Regions from separate parts of the Homo sapiens genome. Here region 1 is linked to region 2. The links come from fine-mapping of genetic effects on gene expression. A gene starts in region 2. The other region holds a variant in brackets. All regions are shown on one strand. Distances are between the middles of the regions.

Region 1 (4,399 bases), 950 kb after region 2:
GTTATTCCTTTTTAAATGTCAAGATTAAATCTGTGATCAAGGACCTTTTAAGTATATCTTAAGAATCAGGATAGTACAATCTAGTAATGGGTACTTACAATGTACCACCAGGCACTATTCTAAGTGCTTTATGCATATCATCTCATTTAATCCTCACAGTAGTCCTGTGAAGTAAGAACTATTATTGTACCCCTGTGATGGTTAATTTTATGTGTCAACTTGACTGGGCCATGGAATGCACAGACGTCTAGCTAAACATTATTTTTGGTTGTGTCTGTGAGGGTGTTTCGACATGAGGTTAGCATTAGAATTGTTAGACTGAATAAAAATATTGCCCTTCCCAGTGTAGGTGGGCATCATCCAATCCATTCAGGACCTGAATAGAACAAAAGGTAGAGGAAAGGTGGATTCTTTCTCTTCCTGACTGCTTAAGCTCAGACATTGGTCTTCCTCTGCCTTTGAATTTGGACGGGAAGTTACAGCCTCCTTTCTCCTGGTTCTCAGTCCTTCAGATTCAGACTAGAACTACACCATTGGCATTTCTGGATATCCAGCTTGCAAATGGAAGACTGTGAGACTTCTCAGCCTCCACAAACACACGAGCCAATTAGCCAATTTTTTTATTATACACATACACACACACACACACACACACATATATATATATATACACATATATATCTGATTGTGGGACAATGTGAGGATTAAATGAGATTATATGCATAAAGCACTTAGAATAGTGCCTGGTTGTGCATTGTAGGTAGGGGTGTGTGTGTGTGTGTGTGTGTCTGTGTGTGTGTATAAATTGGTTCTGTTTTTCTGGAGAACGCTGACTAATGCAACCCATTTCTCATATAAAGAAACTTAGACATGGATTTGAGTTTGAGTCCTGGTTTCTCTTTGGGCAGGAAGAGTAGATGAGGTAAGACTGAACTTAGGTAATCCTGAGTCCCTAGGGAAATTCCATTATGATACTATTTGTATCAGTTAGAAATTTTTGGTTATAAATAACAGAAAACCTAATTCAATCTTTCTCAAAAAATAGTGAATATGTGGTTCATATATTAGTAAAGAATGCCTTACAGAGGCTTACTCAAACAAGAATGTATTATTATCATATATCAAGAAGTTTCTAAGTAGGTTGCTTCATGGGTTTGTTTAGCAGCCTGACAATGTCACAATTTTTACAATTATCTTTGCACTTCCCTCATGCTTGTCACTTCATGGCTACAAAGTAGTGCTGCAGCTCCAGAGATCAAATCTGCATTCAATGCAAGAAATAAAGATGGATGAGTAGTACCACTCATATATGTCCCCTTTATCAAGAAAAAAACAAAAAATTGTTGGAAATTCCTCAGCAAAATTTCACTTATATCTCTTTGGCAAACTGTCATATGGCCACATCTAGTTACAAAGGAGGATGATAAAGTGAATATTCAGATTTTTCTGCCTTTAGAGTGGCAAACCACATAAAAAATGGATTTGGGAATGGATGTTGGGTCAGCTAATTGGCAGTGTCTACCACATTCCATTTCTCTGCATCTCTTAGTTCTTCCTTCTTTGCTGTATAAACTTCATCTTCAGGCTAACCCTGATATGGTGGCAAGATGTTTTCTGCTTATCTAAAGCTCACATCCTCATGCCATCAATTCCCAGGGAAGAGAAATAACTTATCTTTAACCAGTATATTTTTTTCATTTTATAGGCTCTCAATGAATTGTGTACCAATCCCCAAATCAATTACTTTGACCAAGATGGTTGAGAATGTGAGAAGAGTAGTTTCAAAAAGGGAATTCAAGGTATTGTTATCAGAAGTAGGGAGTAATGGATGCTGAGAAGCAAGCAAGTAATCAACTATCTATCCCTATTTCACCATCCACTTTAATATTTTGTGACTCTTTCCTTCCCCATTTGCACTAGAGACAATCTGGTTAGACTGTGCTGATTAATACGGAATGGCTATCAACGTGTAGTTGGGTATTACATGTGAAAATCAATGGTGTAGAGATTTCCCCAGTCAATGAATATCCTATATCAAAATTTAACCTAATAAGTGGTATCCACATAGGACTATAACTAACATCATAATAATGAAAGACTGAATTCTTGTTTCCACTAAGATTGAAAAGAAGGCAAAGATATTCACTAACA[C/T]CACTCATAATCAACATTGTATTGGAATCCCTAGCCAGTGCTAAGATTTAAGTAAGAAAAAAGAAATATAAGACAAACAGATTGGAAAGTAAGAAAGGTGACTCTCTCTATTCACAGACAACAACAGTGTCTCTATAGATAATCCCAAAGAGTCTACAGAAAAACTTCTAGAACTCATAGTTTTTTTGAACCCATCAGGGAGCTTGGGTTTCAGAGCAAACAGTTGGCCCGTATCTAAGGGAGAAAGAATGGTGCATGTGACAAAAGAGAAGACAAAATTACACACTCATATAAGACACAACAAGAACCTTGTAAGAAGCATTGAGCTAGAATAGTTGACAACGTGGTGAAGCCTGAGAGTAATCTGGCAAGACAGCGTGAAACCCCTATGTGCCAAGAACTTGGAGGGGTCAGTGTCACCTTGCACGGTCCTCCATGAACCTCAACGGGTGCTCCCAGAAAATATCAGAAAGCGTTCTAGAAGTGTATGTTGTGATGCAGATTTGGAGTAAGATATCAGTAGCTATGCTGGAGGAACAAGAAACTCCCACTGGATATTTCTCCTCTACTTCCAATACAGAAAATGAAGCCTTGAACTATGGAGGGAAGGGCAACCAGAACCTCTGGCATTATGGCATTGATGAACACTTATTGCCTCTGGGGAAAGGGAACAGGAGGAAAGCTTTACTTCTGAGAAAGGAGTAGGGTTATATGTTGAGCCTACAACTACAGCTGGGGAGAGTCAGGAAAACCTATCAGATCATATACCTAAGATGCAAGAACATAGTGCATGCCTATAACTAACTCTTAATCAGAACAACAGAGGCCACACCCCAAACTACCATCAAGCTAAAAAGCCTAAAATAGTAAATAACAACAGAATTCTGCTTGGAGATGAATGAGAAAGGAACAAAGACACATTCTCTGGGGCACAGCACAAATGGAAACCCTTAATCTCTTTTTTTTTTTTTTTGTATATATGTTAAGGTTTAATACCCAAAGTATATAAAAAACTTCTACAATTCAACAACAAAAAGACAAAACATTTTAAAACAAAATGGTTGTAAACAAACAACAAAAAGACAACCATTTTTGTCCATCTTACAATGGACAAAAGGCTTGAATAAACATTTCTCCAAAGAAGATAAACAAATGGCCAATAAGCACTTGAAAAGATGTCAACATCATTAGTCAATGGAGACATACAAACTAAAACTCCAAGCTATCACTTCACACTTACTATGATGACTATTATTAAAAAATGGAAAATAACAAGTGTTGTTGAGGATATGGGGAAATTGAAATCTTTATAAGTTAGCAATAGGAATGTGAAATGGTGCAGCTGATGTGGAAAACAGTTTGGCAGTTCCTCAACAAGTTAGACACAATTACCATATTAGCACACCTGGGTATGTACTCAAAATAATGGAAAAGAGTTACTCAAAAAAATACTTGTACACCAATGTTCATAGCAGCATTATTCACAATAGCCAAAAGGTGGAAATAATCCAAGAGTCTATCAACAGAAGAATGGATAAACAAAATGTGGCATATACACACAATGGAATACTATTCAGCCATAAAAAGGAATGAAGTTCTTTTTTTTTTTTTTTTTATTATACTCTAAGTTTTAGGGTACATGTGCAGGTTAGTTACATATGTATACATGTGCCATGCTGGTGCGCTGCACCCACTAATGTGTCATCTAGCATTAGGTATATCTCCCAATGCTATCCCTCCCCCCTCCCCTGACCCCACCACAGTCCCCAGAGTGTGATATTCCCCTTCCTGTGTCCATGTGATCTCATTGTTCAATTCCCACCTATGAGTGAGAATATGCGGTGTTTGGTTTTTTGTTCTTGCGATAGTTTACTGAGAATGATGGTTTCCAATTTCATCCATGTCCCTACAAAGGATATGAACTCATCATTTTTTATGGCTGCATAGTATTCCATGGTGTATATGTGCCACATTTTCTTAATCCAGTCTATCATTGTTGGACATTTGGGTTGGTTCCAAGTCTTTGCTATTGTGAATAGTGCCGCAATAAACATACGTGTGCATGTGTCTTTATAGCAGCATGATTTATACTCATTTGGGTATATACCCAGTAATGGGATGGCTGGGTCAAATGGTATTTCTAGTTCTAGATCCCTGAGGAATCGCCACACTGACTTCCACAATGGTTGAACTAGTTTACAGTCCCACCAACAGTGTAAAAGTGTTCCTATTTCTCCACATCCTCTCC
Region 2 (4,399 bases):
AGGTTTATGTCTTGGAGTGTTGGTAAGATGACACCTAGGTACTCTTGTGTCTTAAGTCTAGTCACTGCCCCATCATCACACGCCCCACATATCTCTAAGCTGCGCAGTGTCCACTCTTGCCACATCCCCTAAAGGAATGAACCGCGTGTGATAATAGGCACACACACTCATGCCTTCCCAAAGTTGATGAAATACTAATAAACTTCCCTAAGCCAGTCTGCTTAAGATACAAAAAAAGACTGGGAAATAAAATATTCTATAATCTTTGCCCTCCAGGGGCATCTTTCTGTATCATCTACTGAAATTGTATAGTGAACCTTTAAAATGTCTGTCATTCCAAAGGACAACAAGGAAACCCATCCTGAGTCAACACTGCAAGCACTACTGTGTGACAAAAGCCTCACCTGCTCATGCAGGTGATGGGAGCAGGTTTTCTTCTCTTGCCTCCTTTGAGTAGCTTCACAGTTAAGGAAGCAGCTGGATAATGCAGAGGCCAAGAGATATTGGACCCTGTGCTTATGGACTCCTGGACTCAAAAGCAAATGATGTAGGGACACACTGGCACTTAGAGAAATCTCAGTATTTATGCACTCCTGATATTCACGTGCTAAATAGAACAACCTTCCTCTAAAGTTCTGTTCTGCAGAACAAACAACAAAAATCTTTTCAAAGACCCCTAAGAGAGAAACACACACTGTCTAGCCCGATGTGAATGGGGAAAGAGGGCTTGAGCAACTCTATGTTCAGGAAAATCTCCTGCCACACATTCTGGAAGTATTCATACATTATTAAAGTCTTTTTATAATCCCACCTCTTGAACTTCCACACAATATGTGCCTCATCTATGTGGGAACAAAAACAGTTGTGAAATTTGGCCAGAAGAGGACAGCAGTTTGAGAGCACTGTATAGACAAGAGCACAAGGCTGAACCACATTTGGGGTGGGCTGCTTTGGATGAGCGCAGACATGCGCGAGTTTGTTCCTACCACCGTGCAGTGAAGTTGCAGAGAAATTAGGAATTAAGAACAAGATGAATCCATCCAGCTACTCCCAGCCTAAAAAAAGCAAGAAGTCCTAATAGCTATTTATATGCAACTCCCTGGGGACTGAAGTGGTTCTTCCTAATGGCTGAAAAACACTGAGTAGCAATCAGGTCTTTAAGCAGAATGTTTTTAAGACCTTATCGTGAGGACGCTGATGGAGATAATGAACGTTTGAGGTGTCGATAGTACATCTTAAAACGGTAATGGAATAGGTAGGAAGATTCGCTCTTCCAAGTATTCCTAATTTCATATTAGTAAAAGTCAGTTGTCCAGCTGGCACTATAAAAGCGCGGTGTCAGCATTAAGAAGAAGCTGAAAGGAGTTACACGATGAGAAACGAGTTACACTGTGTAGGGTTCCAGACAGCAGTGTCCGATGACAGCTACAAGAGCAGCACTCCTTACTCCTTACGGTCCAGGGGGAATGCAGGCAATTCCCCTCTGGCTGTCAGTCTCCCTATCCCCTGCCGCGTCTCCTTCGCGGGGCGATGGGTCTCAGAGCCACCCCCAGCCAAAGAAAGGGGCACGCTTTCGAGATGTCTCCCTGGCCGCTCCTGTACGGAGAGTGGCGCCTGAGGTTTCAGCCCCAACCCGCCTCCCTCCGCTAGAGTCAGCGGCGGTCTGGAGTCCCTGAGCCCCGCGGGCAGGCGCCACCTGGTCTCCGGCCCGCTGCCTAGCACAGCGGCGAAGCTGGCTCGACGTGCGATTTCGGTTTCCGTCCGTCGGCCTCGCCCGCAGTCCCGGGCGCTGGGAGCGGCTGCGCCTGGCGCGCCCGGAGCCCAGCGGCTCCCCGCGGCCGCCCCGCGGGCGGGTGCCCCGGGACGCGAAGGCCGGGCGGGTGGCGGCGCCCCTACTCACGTAGCGCTGTAGCTTCCTCTCGGGGGGCGACTTAACGAGCCAGCCGGTGCACACTGCGTCGCCCGCACTCATCGTGGCCGCCGCCGCCGCTTCCTCCAGCTGGGCCAGCCGCCCGCGGCAGAAGGAAGTCGGGCCAAGGATGCCGGCGGGGCGGGCCCAGCGCCCGCCCGCCCAGCGCCGCCCCGAGCGGCCGCTGCGACCCCCGCCTCCGGCCGCCGCGGCCCCCGGGGAGGGAACCGACGCCGCCCGCAACCCAAGACGGCGGGAAAAGCAAGCAGCGAAGCCTGGGAAGCCCCTTCGAGCAACTGCAGCTCCGCCAGCGGCTGTGCCCGGGGGGGGGGTGTGGGGGGGGGAGCCTACGCAGCAGGGCGCCTGCCACTCTCACCCAGGGTCACGAGAAAGCGCTCGGAAGGAGCCCTGCGACCTAATGGGAGCACAGCCTGGAACCTGTTGCCCTCATGCCCCATCCCCAATCCGCCACGCCAAACGGGCTGGTCCCTGGGTCTCAGGGACCCTGGAGCTGAAACCCAAGTACCACCTGCATCTGCCATGTGCATAGTTCACGGAGAAACAAAAGCAAGACTCCTCTTGGACTTCCCTATTCCACTTGATTGCTTGCACAGTAGTGTGTTTTCTATGTCCCTCCCCCAAAGATCGTTGTATTCAGTGATAAGCTTTGCCGGCTAAACGGTCTAAATGTCTTAATGAACCCAAATGACCCAAACTCAAAAGGTAGTGCTGTTTGCAATCTCTTTGACTCGAAGGTTTTAAAAGATGGATCTAAAGTCGATTGTGCCAACTAGTGTGCTGACCACGCTAAGTAAAAATAACAATCATGAGCACCTAACACTTGTGACCTTCCTTACTGCCAAGCTAACACCATGCCAGCGATTGTGCTAAGCACTTTCCAGGCGTTATCTCATTGAATCCACACAACACCCTGTCAAAGGGCTCTTATTATTATCTCAATTTTGCAGGTTACTAAAATGAAAAACAGGATGACAGTGTCACTTGTCGAGAGCCACACGAGAAAATCATCCATAGGCAGCCAGAGCTGTGTCAAGAGCCCATCCACTTAAGCACCACCCTCTGCTTTTTGTGGGTATCATCTATGTGACGTTTGCTAGCATCTTCAACAGAATGACCAACCTCCCATCCTATCAGGCCAGATGCTTCAGGGTGATGAGCTAACATGGTAACACCAGTGGAGTCCATCAGCATGCGCACACTGGCTTATAATGATTTTCTTGTGTGAGATAATGTCAGTGTGAATAATGGGTTCAGTAAGTCAATGGGCAGGAGTGCCAGCAGAAATGTGAATTTTAAAAAAGCGAATCCATGTACAAAATTAGTACCTGTTCAAGTGAGAAAAAATTGCTGCCCCTTCCAGATGGCAGTCCAGGTGGCTGTCTGGTCCCCCCAGGGAATGCTGTTATTAAGGGTTCATTGTTTGTCTCTGCCTGTGGGCAGCTTGAGCACTTAGCAGTGGCTGTGGCCATATCAACTGTTGCCAGTCCCTGAGAGCCCCACTATGCATTGCTAATTCTCTAAGTCTTGCTTACACCTCTGTTAAAAAAAAAATCCCTTAATTATACTTTCCTCATTTCAACCCCTTGAGTCTACTGTTTGCTTCCTTTTGAAACCTTGACCGATAGACCTGGTCATGAGGAACTCCCTACGACATTCTGGGTGTAAGTCCAGGGAATGGTGATCATGCAGCAGCAGGGGCCACAAAGATGTGAGCCACCTGCTCTAGCAACTTTCCTGTACCTTCCAGACCTGCTTGAGTCTGGTCTCAAATATTCCACTTCCAAAAGAGGATGAAATAGCACCAAATTTATCAGTGGCAGCTGAAGTTCCATGGTTCTTTGGTGCCCCATGGTCAAGCATTCAGACTTTGCCACAGCCCAGGAGCAAGCTGGAAGCTGTTGGTCAAAAGGAAAATACTTCTTTTGTGGTAGAGGGCATGGTTTACTTCAAAACTCTAGGGCTTTGCTGTGTGTTTCTCCTACTGGGACTTGCCAGAGGCTCCGTGTAGCCTCCCAGTGTGTCAAAGGTCCTGTACCTGTTGAATCTACATGGTCATAAGGGTCAAGTGGCCTGGACCTGTCACAGAGCCTTTTCTTGCCCTGGATCTCTCCCCGAAAACATGCAACCCTACAGATGACTTGCTGAGTGCATTGGTGCGGCACAATTAAATGTAGCATATGTTGCCTACAAAATTCAAACATCCACACCAAATGCCGTGCCTCTTTCTGAGTGGTAGGTGGTAAGCGGTACAACAACATGTTGAATACCCAACGTGGTCCAGACCATCTAAAAACTTTGCTGAGGTTCAGGCTCTTGAGTTTTCATGGGGCTTATCTCCTGCCCTGTGGTGTACTTGTATCTTAATAAAGCATCTAGAGTATTCGCTACCTCTAGATCATCAGGTCCAGTACATATGTCATCAGTGTAATAAACCAGCACAACATTCACAACAATCAAGCTCCATTCAAC

What was found. PIP is the estimated chance that this variant, and not a neighbour inherited with it, causes the effect. A credible set is the group of variants that fine-mapping cannot tell apart.
Region 1: its variant is the best candidate, but not a certain one, in a credible set for the expression of GAB3 in whole blood (TOPMed, PIP 0.58).

The regions. Positions count from the first base shown.
Region 1 is chrX:155,696,868-155,701,266 of GRCh38, forward strand. The region is part of intron 1 of SPRY3 (sprouty RTK signaling antagonist 3); the gene reads left to right. Among named protein-coding and RNA genes, the nearest start is that of TMLHE, 86 kb to the left of the region's middle. The variant C/T (reference allele first, on the strand shown) is at 2,152.
Region 2 is chrX:154,749,054-154,753,452 of GRCh38, forward strand. It overlaps GAB3 (GRB2 associated binding protein 3), which reads right to left and starts at 2,024. Exons shown (of 10, transcript NM_001081573.3): 1 at 1,901-2,024. The coding sequence starts at 1,972. RefSeq lists silencers at 1,670-1,729, 1,900-1,979.